2 separate regions of the Homo sapiens genome follow, and region 2 is linked to region 1. The links come from fine-mapping of genetic effects on gene expression. A gene starts in region 1. The other region holds a variant in brackets. All regions are shown on one strand. Distances are from middle to middle. Region 1 holds the start of METTL21A (methyltransferase 21A, HSPA lysine). Region 2 overlaps CREB1 (cAMP responsive element binding protein 1).

Region 1 (12,108 bases):
TACAGTGGTGCACCACCACGACCGGTTATTCTTTGCATTTTCAGTAGAGATGGGGTTTCACCATGTTGGCCAGGCTGGTCTCGAACTCCTGACCTCAGGTGATCCACCTGCCTCAGCCTCCCAAAGTGCTGGGATTACAGACGTGAGTCATAGTGCCTGGTCTTCAATTTCTTTTTCCCTTTTTTTTTTTTTTTTTGAGACGGAGTCTCACTCTGTCGCCCAGGCTGGTGTGCAGTGGCGCGATCTCGGCTCACTGCAAGCTCTGCCTCCCGGGTTCATGCCATTCTCCTGCCCCATACTCCCGACTAGCTGGAACCACAGGCGCCCGCCACCATGCCCGGCTAATTTTTTGTATTTTTAGTAGAGATGGGGTTTCACCGTTTTAGCCAGGATGGTCTCGATCTCCTGACCTCGTGATCCGCCCGCCTCAGCCTCCCAAAGTGCTGGGATTACAGGCGTGAGCCACCGCGCCTGGCCTCAATTTCTTTAAATTTTTTGAAGAACACTTTTAATACTACCTATATTATAACATTGAATAGGTCTGAGGAACTTACAGAATGTTTATATTCTGTCTACATCACTTCCTAAAAACAAAAAACATCCTTTTCACTGGGACTCTGGCTGTATGTATGTCACAGGCACTCCAGCGAGCTTAATCAAGAAAGGAAAATGTCTTGTCTGGTTACCCTGGGTTCCCATGGGACCTGAGAACCCAGGTGCAGCCAGGAAGGGCTCAGGACAAGAGAGGCATCAGGAAAACGGCAGCTGGCAGCTCAGCCCCAAGTTTCTGCTGGTGACTGCTCTCTGTAGAATGGTTTCTCCATCTATACCGCACAGTGAAGATGGCCCCATACAGGCATGGCTTTATATCTCTCCTTTGCTCAAGGGACCGGCCCAGACTGAATGTATTAGGATTGTTTTTCTTCTTCAGGATATGGAAAAAAAAAAAAAAAGCTGCTCAAATGACAGCTTAAGCTAATTAGGGAATTTAATGGCTCAAATAACTGAAAATTCCAGGACAGCTGGATCCAGGTGGTCAAACATCAACAGGAGGCAGCCTCTCTCTCCACCAGCGCCTTCACTGGCCACATTTGCTGCTAGTTTTGTTCTCTTGGGACCAGATGGCCAATAGGACCTCTAAATTTCTATCCTTCCCCAACAGGCTGGTTCTCTGAGAGTCTCAAGTCTCAGAATGGGTTCTGGTTAGGCCCAGCTTTGGTTACATGTTCACATCTCACCTACCTGTGGCCAGGTGGAAGGACTGTGTTCATATTGGCCAGGCCTGGGGCATGTGCCTGATCATGTAGTAAGGGCTGAGGATAGACCAGTCCAAACACATAACAGTATAAGCAAATGCTCTATAAAATGTGTTTGTTGGGCGCAATTCTAAGTAGATAAGTTAACTCATTTTAATCTCAGGTTATCTTTGTTGTTTACTCATACAATAATCACATTATCCCTATTTTATAGATGAGGACATTGAGACACAGGTTAATGCATTTCACCCAAGCCCTCACAGCTAATAAATTGCAGAGCTGAGTTGGTGCAGAACTTGCACTCCAGAAGCTGGGCTCCTGACCATCAGCAGAAGAGAACTGCTGCTACCAGGAAAATGAGAAATAGATGTTGGGCAGGCAGTAACAACAGATGTCTGATAGTCACTCTGCATTCTTTCTGCAGAGAGAATTATGTACCCAGCGTGGGGTTGGGTATCCACCCTGGCCTAAAAAGGGAACATGCCTGGGGGAACATAGGGATCAAGCTGTGCCAAGGTAGTAGCAAGGTGACTGCTTCTACTATGACCTTGGACATGGACTAGTTCCAGGAGACAGGAGGGACAAAGGCCTAAGTGTCCTTCTACCATTATTTTGCAGTCAGGCATCATAGGATTGGGAAAAGGACATTTCAATCATTCAGATAAAAGTAAAAAGCACTATTTTTTTTTTTTTTGAGACAGAGTTTCACTCGTTGCCCAGGCTGGAGTGCAATGGCGTGATCTTGGCTCACTGCAACCTCTGCCTACTGGGTTCAAGAGATTCTCCTGCCTCAGCCTCCCGAGTAGCTGGGATTACAGGCATGCGCCATCATGCCAGACTAATTTTGTATTTTTGGTAGAGATGGGGTTTCTCCATGTTGGTCAGGCTGGTCTCGAACTCCTGACCTCAGGTGATCCGTCCGCCTCGGCCTCCTAAAGTGCTAGGATTACAGGCGTGAGCCACCTCGCCCAGCTAAAGCACTATTTTATACACTGTTAACACTACGATTAAACTGCACTTCGGAATTACAAACAATGCGGGAAGTAAATCTATCTTTTTGCATATTCCTAACAAGACTGTCAGGAGAGGCCAGGCTCAGTGGCTCCCGCCTGTAATCCCAGCACTTTGGGAGGCTGAAGAAGGAGGTGGGGGGATCACTTGAGGCTAGGAGTTCAAGTCCAGCCTGGGCATCATGTCAAGACTCTATGTCAAGACTCTCTCTATACAAAAAATAAAATTAGCTGGGTGTGGTGGCACACACCTGTAGTCCCAGCTACTTAGGAGGCTGAGGTGGGAGGATGCCTGAACCCAAGAGGTCCAGGCTGCAGTGAGCCATGATTGCACCACTGCACTCCAGCCTGGGTGACAGAGTGAGAAGACTCTGTGTCAAAAAAAAAAAAAAAAAAAAAGACTGTCAGAATTTCTTTTTTTTTTTTTTTGAGACAGGGTCTTGCTGTGTCACCCAGGATACAGTGCAGTGGTGTGACTTCAGGACTCACTGAAGCCTCCACCTCTGGGCTCACATGATCCTCCCACCTCAACCTCCCACGTAGCTGGGACTATAGGTGTGCACCACCATGCTCGGCTATTTTTTTTTTTAAATTTTTTTTTTTTTGAGACAGAGTCTCGCTCTGTCACCCAGGCTGGAGTGCAGTGGTGCAATCTCAGCTCACTGCAAGCTCTGCCTCCTGGGTTCACGCCATTCTTCTGCCTCAGCCTCCTGAGTAGCTGGGACTACAGGTGTCCACCACCATGCCCGGCTAATTTTTAGTATTTTTAGTAGACATGGGGTTTCACCGTGTTAGCCAGGATGGTCTCGATCTTCTGACCTTGTAATCCACCCGCCTCAGCCTCCCAAAGTGCTGGGATTACAGGTGTGAGCCACTGCACCTGGCCTTTAAAAAAATTTTTTTAGACATGGGGTCTTACTATGTTGGCCAGGCTGATCTTGAACTCCTGGGCTCAAGTGATCCTCCCACCCTGGCCTCCCAAAGTGTTAGGATTACAGGCGTGAGCCACCACACTTGGCCGACTACTCCAAACAATATGTAGTCTGCCACACACCAACTTGTTTTTAGGATTAAAAATGTATTTTCAAATATTCAGTGGACCACTGGCTTATTTTGATAAAAACAGAGCTCTGCTTAATGGCTACACTGCTATACGAGTTGCATATGTTCCTCAATATTCCTTTTGGTGCTTCCTGAGCCATCTGATACAGCTTAGAACATTGGGAGGACAAGACGGTTGAGAAAAAGTAAATGACACCTTCCTAGAAAACTCATAATATAATGAGGCACATGTTCCATGTTAGAGTGCTGGAGAGGTGGGGAAGGTTTTGCTTTGTTTTTTGAGGTCATATGCTTGATTTCAGCAGAAAGGATGGAGAATAGGGAGAAAAAACAGAAGGGGCCCAAGGCTCCATGCCAGGCTTCAGGGATGAGCAGCCTGGGATCTAGCGAGGTTTAGTAATTTCCCAAAGTCATCCCATTTAAAGAGTCAGAGGAATAATTTAAATTTTCCATATTTGTCTGGCCCCAAAGCCCATACATGTTCTTTCTTGTGCCCATTGCTGGTTCTCCCTGCAAAAAGGGACAGAGAGAAAATAAAGGCAAGAAAGGGAGGTCTTCGATAAAGGGAAAGCTGAGAGGCAGAAACACCAAGTGCAGGAGGTAAGAGAGAAAGGAAATACTAAGAGAGAAAGCGAGAGGACCAAAAAAGAAAACGAAAAAGGAGGTAAAAGTCCCTCACTGGTGGTCTTCCAAGTTCCCTGAGGTTACCCTCGAAGCCACAGGCCCCACCTTCCGATGGAAGATTAATCTGGAGGCCGGGGACGCCGCCTACAGGACGGAAGAGGCCAGGAGAGAGAGGTTCAGGCCCCCGCCAGGCTCCCACCGCGGGAAGCAGGCTCCCGGGGGCGGCCCCGGGAGCTCTTAAAAATATCAGCGCTTGCCGGGCGCGGTGGCTCATGCCTGTGATCCCAGCACTTTGCGAGGCCGAGGCGGGTGGATCACCTTTAGTCATGAGTTCGAGACCAGTCTGGCCAACGTGGTGAAACCCCCGTCTCTACTAAAAATACAAAAATTAGCCAGTCGTGGTGGTGGGCCCCTTAATCTAAGCTACTTGGAGGCTGAGGCAGGAGAATCCCTTGAACCTGGGAGGCGGAGGTTGCAGTGAGCCGAGATCATGCCATTGCACTCCACCCTGGGTGACAAGAGCGAAACTCTGAATAATAATAATAAAAAAAAAAAATCAGCGCTCGGGCGGTAGGGGTGGGGGAGGTGGCAGTGGTTCACACCTGTAATCCCGCATTTTGGGAGGCTGAGATGAGCGGATCACCGGAGATCAGGAGTTCAAGGCCAGCCTGGCCAACATGGTGAAGCCCCGTCTCTACTAAAAACACAAAAAAAGCCGGGTGTGGCGGCGGGCGCCTGTAATTCCAGCTACTTTGGAGGCTGAGGCAGGAGAACTGCTTGAACCCGGGAGGTGGAGGCTGCAGTGAGCCGAGATCGCGCCACTGCACTCCAGCCTGGCGACAGAGCAAGACTCCGTCTCAAACAAACAAACAAAATCCCACAAAAATTAGCTGGCGTGCTGGCGCAGGCCTGTAATCCTAGCTACACGGGAGAATGAGGCAGGAGAATCGCTTGAACCCGGAAGGCGGAGACTGCAGTGAGCCGAGTTCGCGCCCTTGCACTCCAGCCTGGGCGACAGAGAGAGACTCCGTCTCAAAACAAAAACAAAAACAAAAACAAAAGCAAAAAACCAAACAAAAAAATCAGCGCTCGGGCCCCCTCCCATGGCCAGCTCTTGGGGCGGGGGACTGGTAAGGGAGGTTTACCCCAGCTGGTTCTAACGTGCAGCCGCGCTGAGAGCGCAGCGGGCGGTGTGGGGCGAGGGGCCCCAGGAGGAAAAAGAAGCCTGCCCCGGGAGGATGCCGGTCCCCGCACGGTCCCACTCAATGGACCCACTCCAGCCGCGCGCTCTGCCAGGGCCTGCGGCCAGGGTACCAGGCCCTCGGCACCTTCCACGTCCAGCGTGGGTCCTCACGGGCAGGTGCGTCTTGGCATCGGGAGGAGGGAGACTGGGGCACTGGAGTCTGCAGCGCCGCCTGGGGCCGGGGCTGGAGCCGAGCGCACGCCCAGAGCTCCGCGCTTCCGACTGCAGCCAGAGCCCGCCGACCCCCGCCCCACTTTAAAAACTTGGACTCGGGCGCCACGTGTTCACTTCCCCCACTGTGCTTTAGTTGAAAAGGGTTTTGTGACTTTTCCACTCGATTGCCGCCAAGCGGGCTATTACGCCGCTTCTGACCCCACCGTGGAGACGCGGGGACTAGAGTGACCATGCCTTCTTCGGAGCGAGCTGTCTCCATCATCCGCTAACGCGCCACCTTTAAAAAACAGGCACAACGCGCAAGCGACAAAGTCAGAGGCAGAGAGCGGCGGAGCACATGATAGAAAAGGTCGAGAGGCACATTCAGCGCCAGGTGGGTGGCTTTTCTCTCCCGCTAGGAGAGCCCAGGGCACCCCATGCTCTCCCTGTGCACCCGCGGCAGTTCGGCACCCCGATCTCACTCTTGCTCCCGCCCCCACAGCGCCTCCCTCGGCGGCGGGGGAAACGGATTAAGTCGTCCGTGTACCCTGGGGACGCACGAGGGAAAGCCCCGGTCCCCCCTCCCGCAACGTCACTCCTCCACCGCGCCACGGCCCGGCCCCGCCCTCGCCGTGAGCTCCGGGGGCACCTGCCGGAGGCTGGGTGCCGGGAGACCGGAAATGCGTGGCTCCGGGCCGGGGCCGCCCGCCCCCGCGTCGCGGGCTCTTTAAGGCCGGCGGTTTTCGCAGCCAGCCCGGGGCGGGGAAAGCGGAGCGCGCGCTCCACGCGGGACCGCCTCCCGGGCCGTAAGTACCGGCGTGGCGGCGCCTCAGCCCGGCCTGGGCGAGCCCTGGGTGCTCCGCCGGGCAGCTCACGGCGCCCCGTATGGCCTGGGGATCCTAAGAGGCCCTGTGACCCCCCTCGCCTGGTCTCCCTCTCACCCCTGGAGGGTTGCCGCAGCTCCGGGGCCCCCGGGCAGGAAGGGCGCACTGGTCGTCCCGGGAGAGGGGTGAGTGGGGGGCAGCTATAGGGGGAGTTCGGGGAGGCCTCCGAGTCCCCGCTGTCCCCGCGAGCCGCTTGGAGGCCCCCAGTGTCGCTCACTTCCAGGGTCGGGGAGACGGAACTGCGGCGACCATGTATTTCTGGTTTATCAAACCGCTAACACCCAGTCTAAGGGCAGGTTCTGTCCCATTGTTATCACTATCGAAGCAGCCGATGGAGGAGGGGAGGTGGGTAGCGAAACCGTAGCGAAAGAACCCGGGCCGCCCGGCTGGCTGCAGCTGCAGTCCGGGCGCCCGGGTCTGGGTTGGAAGCGCTGCTTTCCGCGCTGCTCTGGGGCCCTGGGCGATCACCGCCGCTTCCGCCGCTTGTGTAGTTCTGAATTCACGGAGTGGTAGCAGTGCAGTGTATAGGGTATTCTGCGGAAGTTGGAATGTTCTGGGCTTTTTTTTTCTTCTTCCCCAAACACATCCGTTGACACAAATTCCGAGCCAAATCTCACTCAGATTCGGAAGAGCCATGCAAAAGAAATTGGACAAAGGCTTCCTCCACCTGTTTCTTTTTTTCTTTTGAACTTGTAAACGACCTTAAAAGCATTTGGAGTTAGTTAAGAACAGATAATGTATCTTTTGGCCAGAGCGTCACCCAGGATTCTTTTGCACGGCAGGTCTGAGCAGAGGGCGGGGTGCAGGCGGAATGGCCCTCGTGCCCTATGAGGAGACCACGGAATTTGGGTTGCAGAAATTCCACAAGCCTCTTGCAACTTTTTCCTTTGCAAACCACACGATCCAGATCCGGCAGGACTGGAGACACCTGGGAGTCGCAGCGGTGGTTTGGGATGCGGTAAGTAAGCCCTGGGGGACCTCTGAAAACGTTCACACTTGCAAGACTGGCTTTTATTTTTTATTTTTTTTAGAACAGCTTTATTGAGATATAATTCACATAGCATACACTTTACCTATTTAAAGTGCACAATTCAGTGCGGTTTTAAAAATACAGTATATTCACAGAGTAGTGCAACTATTACCGCTTCAATTTTAAAAGTTTTACTATCACTGCCACTCTCAAACCCGTATCCCTTAGTCACTCCTCTTGTCCCTCCACATAGATTACATTTTAAAGGTGTAAATGAAAGCTGAGGAAAGTTAATGACTTGTCGGAGAGGATAGGAAGGAAAGCCCCCAACTGCTTTGGACACGAGTTAGTCTTTTTTTCTTTTGAGACATAGTCTCGTTCTGTTGCCCAGGCTGGAGTGCAGTGGTGCGATCCTGGCTCAATGCAGCCTCCGCTTCCTGGGTTCAAGTGATTCTCCCACCTCAGCCTCTGGAGTAACTGGGGCTACAGGTGCACGCCACCACACCTGGTTAATTTTTGTATTTTTTGGTAGAGATGGGGTTTCGACATGTTGGCCAGGCTGATCTGGAACTCCTGACCTCAAGTGATCCACCTGCCTCAGCCTCCCAAAGTGCTGGGATTACAGGCGTGAGCCACAGCGCCCAGCCGAGTTAGTCTCTTTATTTCACAGAGTATTGTAAAGTGGCAGAGCCCAAAATGGAGATTATGTGTTTTCTTTAAGTTTTCCATAGTTGTAATTGTTAAAAAATTGTAACTGCTTTTTAACTTCTTCCTCTCCCTGCCCTGTTCTGACTTGAGCCCTCAGCATCTAGCCCCACACCTAGGACTCAGTGGGAACTCAATTAATGTTGAATGCATGATTGGCATAAATACAGTTTGACAGTTTTAACATTGTTAGGGATGTTAAACACGTAGGAATAAAAATCTCAATATATTCTAATGTAGTAATACCACTTCTAGGAATCCAGTCCAGGTAACTACATGGAAGTTACTCTGGTAATAATAAAGATATAGGCCTGGTGTGGTGGCTCACACCTGTAATCCCAGCAGTTTGGGAGGCCGAGGTGGGCAGATCACTTGAAGTCAAGAGTTCGAAACCAGCCTAGCCAACATGGCGAAACTCCATCTCTACTGAAAATACAAAAATTAGCCGTGGTGGCGCACACCTGTAGTCCTAGCTACTCGGAAGGCTGAGGCAGGAGAATCGCTTGAACCTGGGAGGCAGAGGTTGCAGGGAGCTGGGATTGCACCACTGCACTACATCCTGGGTGACAGAGTGAGACTACATCTCAAAAAAAAAAAAAAGATAAATAATAACGAGGAATGGGAAGACTCGTAAATGCTCACCAAGAAGAGGAATTGCCAATTATACTCACAGTATGCGGCTGTGAGAAATAAATTATAGTAACAAGTTATGTTAGCTTTATACACTTCTTTCTGTAGGGTCATAAACAAATGTTGAAACCACACATCAAGTATCCAAAACTTTGGCCAAAACTTACCTTCTGATGCCCAAAACGTATGGTGAGGGCCCCTGTGGGGCGATGACCATCAGTGACGCAGTTCAGAGACCCTTGGGCAATGTGTTGCTTTTTCCCTATGGGTGAAGTTGTGGCTTTGCTGACCTGAGTTTGGTTTAGGAACTGGGCATTCCCTTAAACAAAATCATAGAAATTGTTCATGTCAGTTCTTGCAGAATAGTTGTGTAAACTTCAAGCATAAAAGTGCTGTGACACAGTAAAAAGTTAAGCTTTCCAGGCTGGGTGTGATAGCTCACGCCTATAATCCTAGCACTTTGGGAAGCTGACGCAGGAGCTCAGGAGTTCAAGACCAGCTTGGCCAACATGGCAAAACCCCATCTCTACCAAAAAAACTACAAAAATTAGCTGGGTGTGGTGGTGCACGCCTGTGTCCCAGTTACTGGGGGTGCTGAGGTGGGAGAATCGCTTGAGCTTGGGAGGTGGAGGTTGCAGTGAGCTGAGATTGTGCCACTGCACTCCAGCCTGGGTGACAGATGGACTGAGACTCCATCTCAAAAAAAAAAAAAAAAAAAAATTAAGCTTTCCAGATCCAGCAGGACCCCATTTAGTGTGGGCATCATCTCTGGGCACTGCTGTGGGACCCTGTGCTTGCTCTAAGGGGGAGGTTACCTTGCTGCACCAGCTAAGTTCCTGTGTGTGTTGTTAAGCTGGGAATTGAACCTCGAAGTGGGAGAGGGGTGGGTGTAGCTGACCTGAAACCCTGCAGCTACTCAAGCACATGTTGACCTTAATCGTCATCACACTGTGTTTTCATTCAGGCCATCGTTCTTTCCACATACCTGGAGATGGGAGCTGTGGAGCTCAGGGGCCGCTCTGCCGTGGAGCTGGGTGCTGGCACGGGGCTGGTGGGCATAGTGGCTGCCCTGCTGGGTGAGTGTCATGCATTGACTCCTTAGTGAGCAGAACTCATTGAGAGGTGCATTTGCTGTTTTCTTAGCGCAAAACCCTTCGTGGGTTTTCCCCTTACTGGGTTATTATCTTTTGCTTATACTTATGAGTTGTGGGCCAACTGCTGGGGTTCTTAACTCCAGTGAGGCTAACGGGCTAATTTCTCTCTCTCTAATTTCTGTCTCTCTCTCTCACACACACACACACTCTGTTATTTATACTTCCCATGGGAGATTGCTCTGCCCCCTTCAATTCTGTGATGCCAATAATACGATCTTAAAGTGAGTTGATTCAAGGAGAATAATCTTACCCATGTATAGAGTTTTTTTCACATTCAGGGGCTTTCTTTCCCATACACTATCTGATTTAACCCTGTGAGGGAGATAGAGCAGATAGTCTTTTCTTCATTGCTGAGGAAACTTTGCTGGTTTTTCTCTTGTAGGGAGGGCTAGCCCCCACTATAGTTTGTACTGACTTCTTATTTTTAAAATTGTATGAACAGTATACAGTTCTGACTTGATATCAAAGTTTGTCATTTTAAAATTTGGTATACACACATTAATTGAGGCTTGGAGCTAGAGCATTTTTAGGCTTCATTGTTATTTTTATTATTGACTATTGACTCATTTCTATAACTTCTGACATATATAGTTCAAGCTATCTAATCATAAGGGTAGACCAGCTTTCAAGATACAATGTATAATGTTTATCACTTCCATATTGTCACCTGGTGCTCTTGTTAAAATGCAGATTCTGATTTGGCAGGGCTGGACCAGGGCCTGGGAACCTGCATTTCTAACAAGCAGTAGAAATGTCAGTAGTGATGCCGACACTGCTGGTTCTCAGACTACACTTGGGTAGGAAGGATCCAGGATTCCAGAGTATTCTAAACCCATCGCATTGTCTACAGATATTTGAGGACCAGCTAAAGCCCCTCTTTTGTCCTGCCTGTTTTCCAGAAACCCAATACTTTTTCACTATTTCTTTTTCTGCTTAGCTGCTGCTTTCCAAAATTCGACAGGGAGCATGGGCAGGGGTGGTGGTTGAAAGTCTGTGTAAATTGACAGAGGTTTCCGTCCGTCTTCAACCACAGCACTTAAGTCATCGATGAAGCCCTTGCTGGTACACTGCCTTTTATTCTTTTCAGGTGAGCCTTAGAACATTCCCGTGTATGTTAGGTATTATTTTTAATTTTCATTTTTCAAACAAAGCTGGGATTCTGGGAGATGAAGCTACTTTCTGAAGTCCTGATCACTGGAGATCTGGGACTCAAAACCAGGCTTGTTAGACACAGTTAGTTGTTTTATTTTATTTTATTTTATTTTATTTTATTTATTTATTTTTTGAGATGGAGTCTCACTCTGTTGCCCAGGCTGGAGTGCAGTGGCATGATCTCGGCTCACTGCAACCTCCGCCTCCCGGGTTCAAGCAATTCTCCTGCCTTAGTTTCCCTAGTAGCTGGGACTACAGGCATGTGCCACCACGCCCAGCTAATTTTTTATTTTTGGTAGAGATGGGGTTTTACCATGTTGGCCAGGCTGGTCTCGAACTCCTGACCTCAGGTGATCTGCCCACCTTGGCCTCCCAAAGTGCTGGGATTACAGGAGTGAGCCACCGTGCCTGGCCTGTTTTATTTTTTTCTGTAACACCAACTTCTCTCTCTGCTGATATAAGAGTTACTATAAGGGGAAATGAGGTTTCTTCTGTTTCCTCCTGAGAACCAGGGCTTCATGCAAAACTTTCTTGGCTGGTGTATAGACATGTTAGTGTAGCAAAGTGCATAGGCTTAGTTATACTTGGTTTTGACATTTCTTTTCATTCTTACTAGTCGTGTGACCTTGGGCAAGTTGCTTAACCTTTAAACATTGATTACCCCATCTGTACATTGTGCATAATAGTAATATTTACTCCACAGTGAGGAACCAATGAGATTGCGTGTATAACATCTGCTGGCTCACTGAGTGACACAAAGGAAGTGCTCCACGAGTGTTGATTACTCTCTGAGTAACTGCTTTTTCTGATCTAGCAATCTGGTTCTCTGGGGTTGGGAAAGTCAGAATAAGATATTTCAGATACCACCAGAGTTACCATTAGCATTTTGGTATGTTTTGTTTCTCTCCATCTGTATTTTTAATCATAGTTGTAATTATGATTATATATATGTAAATATATATGTCTGCGTATGTGTGTTTTGTGTATCCGTATACACACACCTATACAAATGATGTTTTCACATTATGTCATAAGCATTTCTCTGCTACTGTATGATTTTCATACTCACTATTTGTAGTCACTACAAAGTGTTAGGTTGGAGAAGTTTTGCTGTTGGAGCCTGAGGGTAAGAAAATGTTAGTCTCTTCAAAATAGAATCAGTGAGTACTAGAATAGGTAGTGATTTTGAAATGTCAGGAAGAGATTAATTATTATTCTTTTTAAAGTATATTCTCTTTTTGTAACCTTAGTCATTTATTCCTGAA
Region 2 (12,108 bases), 56 kb after region 1:
TCCTTTCTTTTATTTTAGCATTAACTGCATAATGTATTAATACTTGTCCCACTAGTAAATAAATTTCTGGAGAGTAGGAATTTTCTTATATACTTTCATACACTTAGCACAGTGGCAGCCATGAAATAGGCACCCAATAAATGGTTGTTTTAACATATAACTAATAAAGCAGTTCATCAGTGCATTGTATTCCCTAACTCTTGTAGAAATTCTTTAATGGTATCTAATCCACTCAATGAAACAACTGAAATATCCTATGGAACTTAATTATCAACAGTCTCTCATGGAATTTTAAAATCAGAGCTCAAGATCATCATTTAGAAAAAAAACTTTAACTGTCATTTCTAAATTATTTAATACATATCCAAGCATTCTCATATAGAACCCTTTGTTGTTTATGCCCTAATTAGCCACACCTGTCATTCATTTGTTAAACAATAAATCAGTCAACTTTTGCTCATACTAGTAGATATTTCACTTTATGAAAAACTAAATCACCTTTATGCTACAGTACATAGAAAAATTTAATTTAAAAATTAGATGATTTATTTGGAAGAAGCATTTTTAGATAGGTGGCAATATCCTCTCTAGACAATTCTCCCTGTAGGGGTCAAGCTTTTCAGAAAGAGAAGGACCAAAAATCACAATATCACATATAAAACTACAAAACTGATTTTAACTGAGTAAGAAAAAAGTAAACAATGCAGGAAAGTCAACATGTCTGATTAAGCATGTTACTGTCCATTAGAAGGGAATTAGTTTGGGATCAGTTATCCACCAGCTATGGGAAATAACATCCTGAGACATCTGTACATGGAAAATTGATTACTGCCTCATCAAGAAGTAAGAAGAGTTAATGGCTACAGTGTGATTAGTTTAGCAAAATGACACTTGTGAAAATTAAAATGCTGGCATATACACTGGATCTAGTTTAGCTAATCCCAGAAGTTTTACTTATCTTAGGCAGGGAGAAAAATGAGTAAGAACTATTCTAAGATTAATTTTGCATGATTACTTGAAAGAATCAGAAGGTTAACAGAAACAAATCACAATTTCTCATTTAGAGTTAATGAGTGAATCCTACTGTATTTAACATACCACTTTCTTCTTGGCTACAGAGCAGTGAATTCAAGGTGGGAAGAAGAAAGAAATAGTAAACCATATATGACAAGACTGGGTTGTAGTTTGAGTTCCATCACTGAACAGTTTTTTGTTTTAATTTTTTTCTTTTGAGACAGGGTCTTGTTCTGTCTTCCAGGCTGGAGTGCAGTGGCAAGATCACAGCTCACTGTAGCCTCCAACTGGTGGGCTCAAGTGATCCTCCTGCCTCAGCCTCCCAAGTAGCTAGCACAGGACATCAGGCCCTACTAATTTTCTAAAGACATTTTTTTGTAGAGACAGGGTTTTGCTATGTTGCCCAGGCTGATCTTGAACTCCTGGCCTCAAGCAGTCCTCCCACTTTGGCCTCCCCAAGTGTTGGGATCACAGACGTGAGCCACTGTGCCCAGCCATCACTAAACTGTTATTTGATTCTGTTCTCTCTTCTCTAAAAACAAAAGCATCTGGGTTCTAGCCACTAAGTACAATTGTTGTAAATATCAAATGAGGTCATGTATATGAAAATACTTTGGAAACTGAAGTCTAATCCTACTGAACACAGTTTTTCTCTATAATGTTTATGTATACACTTTATTATTCCAAAAAGATTTGAGATAGCTTTCAATAAAACACAATTCATTAAAACAAAAATAAAAAGACAGAAGTCAAGTAACGGATGTATCCTTAGTTATATAAAACAATTGTAGAAGAAAATCTAGACTAAGAAAAGAATACAATTAAACAGAAAGTTAGCTAAGAATCTGAGTTGCCAGAATAAAGAGGGAAACATCATGAGTCATAGTTTTATTTACTGAAACAAAAAAATTCAAGTTCAAAATGACAGATACACATTTTCTATCTAAGAGCAGAATCACTAATAAGATTTTACTATCTGGGACACTGAACTAATAAGTAACAGATAAATCTAGTAACAGCATGAATTTAATAAAATAACCAATTTAAGGAAGGAGTGGAAATTCATGCCTCCACCTGGAAGGGTACTTGCGGAGGATATGCTTTAATTTGATAATTCCACTCTTTTTTTTTTTTTTGAGATGGAGTCTCGCTGTTGCCCAGGCTGGAATGCAGTGGCGCTATCTCGGCTCACTGCAGGCTCCGCCCTCTGGGTTCACACCATTCTCCTGCCTCAGCCTCCCGAGTAGCTGGGACTACAGGTGCCCGCCACCTCGCTCGGCTAATTTTTTGTATTTTTAGTAGAGACGGGTTTTCACCGTGTTAGCCAGGATGGTCGATAATTCCACTCTTAGGATATTTATGTAGCACTGTTTGAAACAATAGAAATGTCCTAAATGTTCATCAGCAGGAGAATGTTTAAATAAGTGCTGTATTTACACAGTGAAACACAATGCAGCTATTAAACAAAATATATAACTATGTGTGTTTATATATCTATGGTGAATTCTGACAACCATATGTTCATTTTATAAGTTAAGAAATATAAATGTTGCTGTATATGTATTTATTATATTGCTCTTAATGAAAATCAAGAATATAATGTTAAATCAGTTCCATCAAAGCCAAAGCCATGTGTACATATACAGAGAGGACACAGGATAAAAATAATGAACAAAGCTTTAAAAATTTCAAAGTATTAATCTCTCTTTTTTTTTTTTTTTTTTGAGACGGAATCTTGCTCTGCCACCCAGGCTGGAGTGCAGTGGTGTGATCTCAGCTCACTGCCAGCTCCGCCTCCTGGGTTCAAGCAATTCTCCTGTCTCAGCCTCCCGAGTAGCTGGGATTACAGGCGTCCGCCACTATGCCCGGCTAATTTTTGTATTTTTAGTGGAGGCAGGGTTTCACCATGTTGGGCAGGCTGGTCTTGAACTCCTGACCTCATGATCCACCACCTTGGCCTCCCAGCGTGCTGGGATTACAGGCGAGAGCCACGGCGCCTGGCTCAATCTCTTAAAACTAGCAATTTTCAGCTGCTGGAGGAGACGAGTGTACCAAATTAAACATCTATGGGGGTGCTGGTACTTTTCTAACCTTCATTTCCCCTTTTTAGATTCTGATAGGCCTCTTTCCTAAAGAGCATGCTTCCTAGTTCAAGTGAGAATCTCTGTAACAGTGAATCTGTTACTGACAGGAGTATGTTGTATCCCTCAGGTATGCTGAAGTAGAAGAAAAATAAACATCATGTATCAATGTCTTCGAACACATATCTTGAATAACTAAAAGCATCTGGTATGAGGCTTCAACTGATAATACACATACACGTACAGAATTGTAGGTAAAGAGTTGTACTTTATATCTGCCACAAAGATCTTAAGAAGAAAAAAGATGACTAAGCTAATTGAGCACAGTGGATAAAAACCTTAGTCAAAAATGCCTTCCTTCTACTTAGTCTCAAAAGTTTCAGCCTTGGCAGAGTTAAAAAGTTTGCTACTTGAGAACTTGTCTTTAATACAGATGGGAATGCAAATTAGAGTTACGCAAAACAAAGTTGAACTGGAACTAAAAAATAACATGGGGGTCAAACTTTCATGCATATTTCTTAATTTTTAAATTATTTTTATAAATAGGGATGGGGTCTTAAACTCCTGGATGGCTCAAGTGATCCTTCCACTTTGGCTTCCCAAAGTGCTGGGAATACAGGCATGAGCCACTGTGCCTGGCCTCAAACTTTTATGCATATTTCTGATACAGATTCCCTCAGGGATTAGGAAACTATCTCAGTAAAGAAGTTTCAATGTGTACATTTAATTTGAAACTAAGGTGGGTGGGGAAAAGGGTATAAATGGGCAGCACCAGGTTTAATAAACAAATACAAATGAAAAAAATCACTGAATGAATAAAGCACTTTGAGAGGCAAAAAAAAAAAAGGGAAAAAGAGAAAAAAGTACCATTCACACAAATGCTTTTGATCAAACAAAATAAAATTCAAAAGTGTCTTATAACAGATTTTGGTGAAAGATAAGAAGACAGACCTAAGTGCCAGACAGAGACATCATAGAAATGAAAACTTTTAAATAATTTTGTAAGAGCAATTTTTGCTTTATGTGGGCCAAAAAGTATATTACTATCTTTCATATGAAAAGGAATAATTGAATGTGCTGACTCAACCAAGCCATGCTTATCCCCACTTGAAACATTATTAAATACGAAGACATTAAAATGCTACTTTCAGAAGGCAAGACAAACTATTAAAATGAATACCGAGATATATTCAAGGAATGATTTTTTTTAATCTAAAAAACTTATGTTCTCTCAACACATGAGGCCTCAAACCTAGGGTCTCAATTAGTGGTTCAAAAACTTCAGACTTTCCATGCATCTGCACAAAAACAAAAGGACATCTAAAAGGTTTATACACTTGACTAATCCTAACTAAAACTCTCTGAAGAAAAGAAAATACTACCATTACAGACCTTTGCATAGTGAAGAGTAAAGGAAATATAATAATGGCAGCAAAACTGAGAAGACTTGGCACTTGTATTGGTTTCTCTGAAGAGAATGCAACTATTAGCTTTTTCTCCTCACTTTTTTCTCCTCACAATAGAAACAGAAATTGTCTATTACTCACTATACTGTCCACTGCTAGTTTGGTAAATTGGAGTTGGCACCGTTACAGTGGTGATGGCAGGTGCTGAAGTCTCCTCTTCAGACTTCTCTTCTTCAATCCTTGGCACTCCTGGTGCATCAGAAGATAAGTCATTCAAAATTTTCCTACAAAATTAGAAAACTAGAATAATTAAAAATATAAGTACAATTTACTGGCTAAATACAAATATAGTTAAAGATGAGAAAACTCACAGAAAGCTGCTAGTGCTTAGGACAGAAGGTTTTTTTTTTTTTTTTTTTTTTGAGATGGAGTCTTGCTCTGTCGCCAGGCTGGAGTGCAGTGGCGCGATCTTGGTTCACTGCAACCTCCGCCTCCCGGGTTCAAGCAATTCTGCAACAGCCTCCAGAGTAGGTGGGACTAC[G/A]GGCGCCTGCCACCACGCCTGGCTAATTTTTTTGGTATTTTTAGTAGATGGGGTTTCACCATGTTGGCCAGGATGGTCTCGAACTCCTGACCTCATGTGATCCACCCGCCTTGGCCTCCCGAAGTGCTGGGATTACAGGTGTGAGCCACTGCACCCAGCCAGCAGAAGTTTAAAATATATAAATTACATGAATAAACTCTTCATGGGTCAGGGATTGATCTAGATGTCAAAAGGAACCCAAATATGTACAAAAACAAAAAAAAAGATGTATTATCTTTAACCTCAATGTAAGGAAGGGTGCAATTAAGGGTAATAATAAGACTGACTACATTAAAAAAAATCTTTTGCATCTCAAAGAACACATACACAAAGTCGGAAAGTAAAAAGTCAACAATCAACTAAAGGGAAAAAAGATCAAAACCTGATTTTTAAATTCTCACTTCTCAGATTGGGAAACAAAAAAGTGTTAACAAAATCTGTTAGCAAAGCTACAAAAAAAACAAAAACAAAAACAAAAAACACCACACTCTCATACATTGCTGCTGGGAGTATAAAACTGGCACAATCCCGATATAAGGAATTGTTGATATTTAAGGAAATATGGGTGTTCGTGCCTCAATCCCATTTCCAGGAATTCACCCCAATTCCAACAATATTAAAATAAACTCGCTTAAGATTATTCCCATTGGCACTGTTTGTAACTGCAAAATACTGGAGCCATATATCCAAGGTCTAAAATAGAAAAACAAATAAAAAGGAAAAAAAATACTGGAAACAATCTATATGCCCATATAAAGGCAAGTGGTTGAATCAACTATGGTACATCCAAATAATGGATACAGCATATCTTTTGTGTAAGGAAAAAAGGGAAATATGAAAACAGACATGTATCTGCTCATTTGTTCAAGGAAAAAAATCAGGATGGATAAACGAGAGAGTAATGGTTTTAGCTATTTACTGGGGATGGGTAGGAAAGAAATGAAAACGACAGAAGGAATGGGGAGGCACTACTGAGTATACTTTTTTTGTGCAATTCTGACTTTTGGTACAGTGTTAAATGTTTCACTTACTAGAAAAAAAAATAAAGATCAACAAGGATGGGTGGAGAAACTCTAAAATGGAACCCAAAAACAAAGGAACCATACCATATTTCAAATGAATAACATAATCACACTGAAAGGTGGGAAAAAACCCCTAAAAACCCTAACCCAAGTAATTTTTGATATCTTAAATTTGTAACAAACTAGTTATAAACTCTGTCCCTTTATGCTATTGTCAAAAATGACATCTTCATATATCATGTGCTTAGTCACATAAATTTATAGTTATTGTTCTATGCCTTTGTCTTTCCAATCACATAGGAAAAAAAGGAGTTACAAACCAAAACTATAATAATCCTGGCTTTTATATTTACCTGTGTAATTACTTTACTAGTAGTATTTGGTTGGATTTGCTTCAGGATCAAATGTGTTATATACTAACAGGAGATATACTTCAAAGTTAAAATCTAACACTAGCTATACTTAAAATAAATTATGAATATAAATACATATAACATAAACTGGTAATATAAAATTTCTTAGACCTCAAAATCTATTTATTGCTAGTCACTTAGGATTCTTAATTTAATTGTAAGGACAGAGAAAAGGGTTAGTTTAATAGCCAAGCGGGGGGAAAAAACCATCCCTTTGAAAAATAGGAATATATAAAAAATAATTTACACTAACAAGGAAGATAATTATGAGTCTGAAGTTTCTTCAATGCTGAAGTAAACTTATCAAGATTTATGGAACTGCCCTTCCTGAAGATATTTAATGTGGAGCTAATTTTTACATTAAAAAATGGTTTTGGTTCACCTTGGAGGCAAGGCATGGACTAGGCAACATCTATAACTGAACACAAAAATTACAGTAAGCTACTGCTAAAATTAGGGGATGTTAGTAAAGCATCTCCCTGAGACAATTATTAAATTAATAGCTATCTGTTAAGTACCATGGCATAAAAAATGGTTTGCAATGTGTTACTAAGTAGATAAATAACAGAGCCTCAGAGTTGGCTTATAACTAAAAAATGCTATAACCTTATCAACTGTATTCCAAACTTTTAACAGAAAGACAGCCAGCACAGTCTACAGAAACAGAAACAGAAAAAAAAAAAATTAGGACTGGTGAGAGTAACAAGTGCTCTTCTTATTCTGTAGGATAAGCTTCCACTTTATTTGAGACAAATAACTCAAGATGAAGAAAAGTAATCTATAAGGAACTGACGTGAACAACTAACTGGTCTTCTGACATCTCTTTATCTGCAACTACCTAAGACTTCCTCCACATCTTTGATTCTAACTATTAAATTCCATACCTGTAGGAAGGCCTCCTTGAAAGAATTTCCCTTCGCTTTTGGGAATCAGTTACACTATCCACTGACTCCTGTGAATCTTCACTTTCTGCAATAGTTGAAATCTGAAATTAAAGAAAAACTTCATATTGATAATCAAATTTAGTTCCTGTAAAATTTTTATTAAACAAATATAAAAAGTCATATATAAACTTTATACATGCTTCAGTAGAAAAAAATCAGTTCTTATGGGAGACAACCACACCAATCACTTTCCCCTTCCCTTTACTTACCCTATAAACTACGATGAAGTTAGAGAACCTAAAATAGCTGCAGTTTAATTTTTTTTTCAGGACTCCATGTAATCAATCCTGAATGCATCAGTATTACTTATCAGTTTTTTCTTACATCTGTTGGAACAAAACTACCAACTAAAATAAGGTTTCTGATATAAAGGATAAAATGGATGGCTAAATATTTGGTCCTAAGTCTATATAGTGACTATACAAATATTATTATTTAACTGTATAAACACTTATGAATATATTTACAGTTGTACAGTAAGACTGGCGATCCATCATGACATCCCTGACAGTTGTTCCTAGCAAGTTAGGAAAAACTCCTAACATGTTTCAAAGTTAGCATTCTATAATCACTTTTAAGTAAAAATTCAAGGTAAAGAACTATGCTTTTCTGATAAGAATACCTAGACTGAAAAGTAATGAAGATAAGTGAATAAAAAATTTACATGGGATATTAATGATAGAAACTAGAATTTACAGATGCCTATGTGCCAGGTGTTATGCTAATGCATTTACATATACTACATTACTTAATACTCACAGTAATGTAGGCGCCAGATGGGTACTATACTATTATATCCATTCCATAGATGGAAGAACTAAGGCACAAAGAAGTAACTCACCCGAGTCACAAAGCTAGGAAGTAGTGGAGCCACTGTCATTAACCTCCATTTTAGACATCCTTACCAGCATCAAAATCCTGGTGGTTCCAGTCTCAAACCAGACTGTTATAGTCTCAAACCAGGTTTGTCAGAAGCAGCAACCAGTGGCATTTTCACACCTTTTCTAGACTAGAAGAGTTCACTTACCTAAGTATGCTTGATTGTCAAATTTACACTGCCCAAGTTTCTCTAATCAGCAGAAACGTTATGCTCTTTCCTGAACTAGGGGCACATTATGCGGTCAGAGTAAGAATTATACTTAACCAAGACAAAAGGGTCTATGTAGGTCAGCTCCACGTCAAAACGTATGGCAATGGCAGTAAGAAAACATATTCAGAAGTACTTGAGAAATTCCAAGCGTACTCTATGTGTGGTCTGAGCCTAACAGTTCTCCCAAGTGGGCATTCATTTTACAGGGCTTTGTGATATGCATGCTCATTTAAAATGAAACCAGGTAAAGTTAGTAACTTGTAGTAAAATATATTTATAATGAAGTAATTTGCCCCATCCAAACACTTTAAAGTCTAAGTACAATCTGAAAGACCTAAAAATCAATAGGCAACATATAATGAATTCACAAATGACAGATAAAAAGATGAGTAATGCTGAATTTAGTCTGTGATTCTCAGCAGAATAATAATGCTGTAATTACTGCCAAAGAAGCACACAGAAAAGTTTCACGTTAATCAGTAGCTGCTGTAACTAGCCCACACACAAGAGTCTCTGCACAAACTTTCTCACATACAGAAGATCAGGAGCTATGAAAAGGCCTGAGGAAAGGATCAGAAATTCAAGGAATAACAAGACTGAACTCAAAGTTGATAGTACTGTGACAAGTGTTGTTTCCCTTCATTAATACGCCACTCAGAATTCACTTAGCTCCTCTGTGGCTCTTTCTGTGTCCACTGCTTGACTCTCATATGCCCCATCCTTACATGCTTCTCTTAAGGACATATAGTGATTAGGGAACACCCCCCTTCCAAGTTGGAACTCACTAAAACAACAACATTAAAACATGCCATATAAACTACCCACAGGATAGTTTTGAAATGAAACAAATTAATGTTGTTTTTTAATCTGTGTCCTTTTTTTTTCTAACTCTGGATCTATGGCCCTTAATGAAAAAAAAAAAAAAGGTTGCCTTTCTCTGACCTGTAAGATTTTGTCAATTCACACAGAAGGAATTAACTTATCACTATTTAGTGCTTGCAACTTTGTAAATGTAAAGAGAATTCAGACCACTGAAATAAACACAACACTTCCTCTTTGGGAATACCATCTGAAGAGAAGTAAGCCATGAAGCTAATTCCTATGGAGTCCCTGATCTATCACTTAATCAATAATAAAAATACTGCCACAGAATATACCAAGCCAAGAATGAAGTTTAATGTAAACTATGGACTCTGGGTAATTATGATGTGTTAATGTAGGGTCATCAAATTATAACATAAATGTACCGTTCTGGGGGAGGATGTTAAGAACAGGGGAAGCTATCCATGGAGTTGGGGAGGGAGTATACAGGTAATCTCTGTAGCTTCCTCTCAATTTTGCTGTGAACCTAAAACTGATGTTAAAAAAAAAAAAACATACTGGACCCACATAACTGAGATCAATAAAAATCATGTCAAAAATCTATTTTTATAAATAACAGAATAAAAACATCATATGAAAAATTATATCCCAATTATAAACATCACGTATCATCATCACATTCCAATGATGGAACCCCTTCCTTTTATTCTCATCTCCTATCACTTATTAACTTCTTTCTGAATTCCTTAAATAGGTCTTTAATTTTGGCCACTTGTAAGTCAAGAAATTTTCAAAAAGCTAAACTACCACTTGTAGATATAAAGTTTTAGGTCTGTATTTCTCAACTTTGGTTTATTTAAAACCCATACTACCTGTTTATATTGGAAAGGTGGAGGACCCCGTTTCGATTATTTGAAATTTTAAAATAAACTATAAAGTAACTAGAACCAATCAAAACAATGGTAATATTCGATGTTTCCTAAACCTATATATGGTCCTTTGGAAACTTAAGTACTATCCCTCGGTAGAGTTGAGACTCATGGTTTGGATATATATTTTTTTTTTAAGATTTTTTTTTTTTAAGAGACAGGATCTCACTCACTCACCGAGGCTGGAGTGCAGTGGTGCGATCACAGCCCACTGCAGCCTCAAACTCATGGGCTCAAGGGATCCTCCAGACTCAACCTCCTGAGTTAGCTGGGATTGCAGGCATGCACTACCACTCCCAGCTAATTTTTAATTTTTTTGTAGAGACAGGGTCTTGCTATGTTGCCCAGGCTGGTCTTGAACTCCTGGCTTTAAGCAATCCTCCTGCCTGGGCTGGGATTATAGGCCACTGCACCTGGCCTTAGATACAGTGTTTTACTCATTGGATCAAGAAGCTTACTGAAAGTCTAGATCAATGATCTTCCAACTCTTTTGATCTGCATGTATCTCTTATAAATAAGAAAAATTTTACACAGGCATACATTTTTCTTATTTCTAAATTTTAAGTATTCGTATTATAAAACAAGAGTTCTTAAAGAGATATGATAAGCATAAATATTAAAAATTTATATATTTCTTAAAGATAAATAATATTATTTTTCAGGATAGTGAGAATGACATAATATGCTTCATTAAAAATCATTTAACACTTTTATTTTTTGAGACAGAGTCTCACTCTGTCACTCAGGCTGGAGTACAGCAGCATGATTTTGGTTCACCGCAACCTCCGTCTCCAGGGTTCAAGTGATTCTCGTGCCTTAGCCTCCCGAGTAGCTGGGACTATAGGTGCCTACCACCACGCCTGGCTAATTTTTGCATTTTTAGTAGAGATGGCGTTTTGCCATGTTGGCCAGGCTGATCTCGAACTCCTGAGCTCAAGTGATCCGCCCGCCTCAGCCTCCCAAAGTGCTGGGATTACAGGAATGAGCCACGGAGTCTGACCTCATTTAACACTTTATAACAGTCATTTAGAAGTCAGATTCTAAGCTTGGGTTTTCTGAAATGTGATTTAACAACTGCTGGCATTGAAAAAGAAAACTTCATGTAGATAACAAAACTAGGTGCATTTGAGGTATGCTTACTAAATAATCATTTTCATTTGCATCTACCAATTATGCAAGCTTTCAATGAGATTTATCTAGTTTATTATTTTCATCTCCCTGGCTCTAAGTCAGTTTATTCCATGTTAATAGGAAGGGGTTACAATTTTGTATTTTTAAGAAATAAGTTCAATACCTGCTGAAACTCCGGAAGACTCCTGAACAATTTACAAAGTTCTATTCCTAGGGTTTTAAAATACGTAGATTTGACATTTTAAAGGAGACAAACTTACGTTGTAAATTGCATCTCCAATCACTTCCCTCCTCACTTACTCTATTCCAGCCATACCTTTCTGTTATTCCTTGATATCCCAAGTATACCCTCACTTCCAAACCTTTCGATCTGCATGCCTTAGCCTCCTTCATTGCCTTCTGGTCTGTGCTGTGTTCCCTGAGCACATTACATAAAGTAGAACACCCTTCCCTCCACATCATTCTCCATCCCTTTCCCCTGGCTTTATTCATCTCTCTCGTTAATTCTCCTAACCTGACACAATTTATTTTTTCATAGTCTGTCTCTTTTCATTAAAATGTGATCTTCTTGAGAACAGAGAAGTATTATTTGCTCATTGCTGTCTTTTATAGCAAGCAGAACAGTGACATAGCATGTCACCAATAAACATTTGTTGTAGGAATGAATGATAATTTA

What was found.
Region 2: its variant is fine-mapped to the expression of METTL21A in whole blood (INTERVAL, PIP 0.98).

Annotation. Positions count from the first base shown.
Region 1 is chr2:207,619,311-207,631,418 of GRCh38, reverse strand. METTL21A (methyltransferase 21A, HSPA lysine) reads left to right here and starts at 6,025. Exons shown (of 4, transcript NM_001127395.5): 1 at 6,025-6,357; 2 at 7,015-7,190; 3 at 9,502-9,613. The coding sequence starts at 7,044. RefSeq lists enhancers at 4,152-4,854, 4,855-5,559, 11,517-11,606 and a silencer at 5,830-6,429.
Region 2 is chr2:207,562,856-207,574,963 of GRCh38, reverse strand. CREB1 (cAMP responsive element binding protein 1) reads right to left here. Exons shown (of 8, transcript NM_004379.5): 4 at 7,401-7,501; 5 at 4,643-4,785. Among named protein-coding and RNA genes, the nearest start is that of CREB1, 39 kb to the right of the region's middle. The variant G/A (reference allele first, on the strand shown) is at 5,043.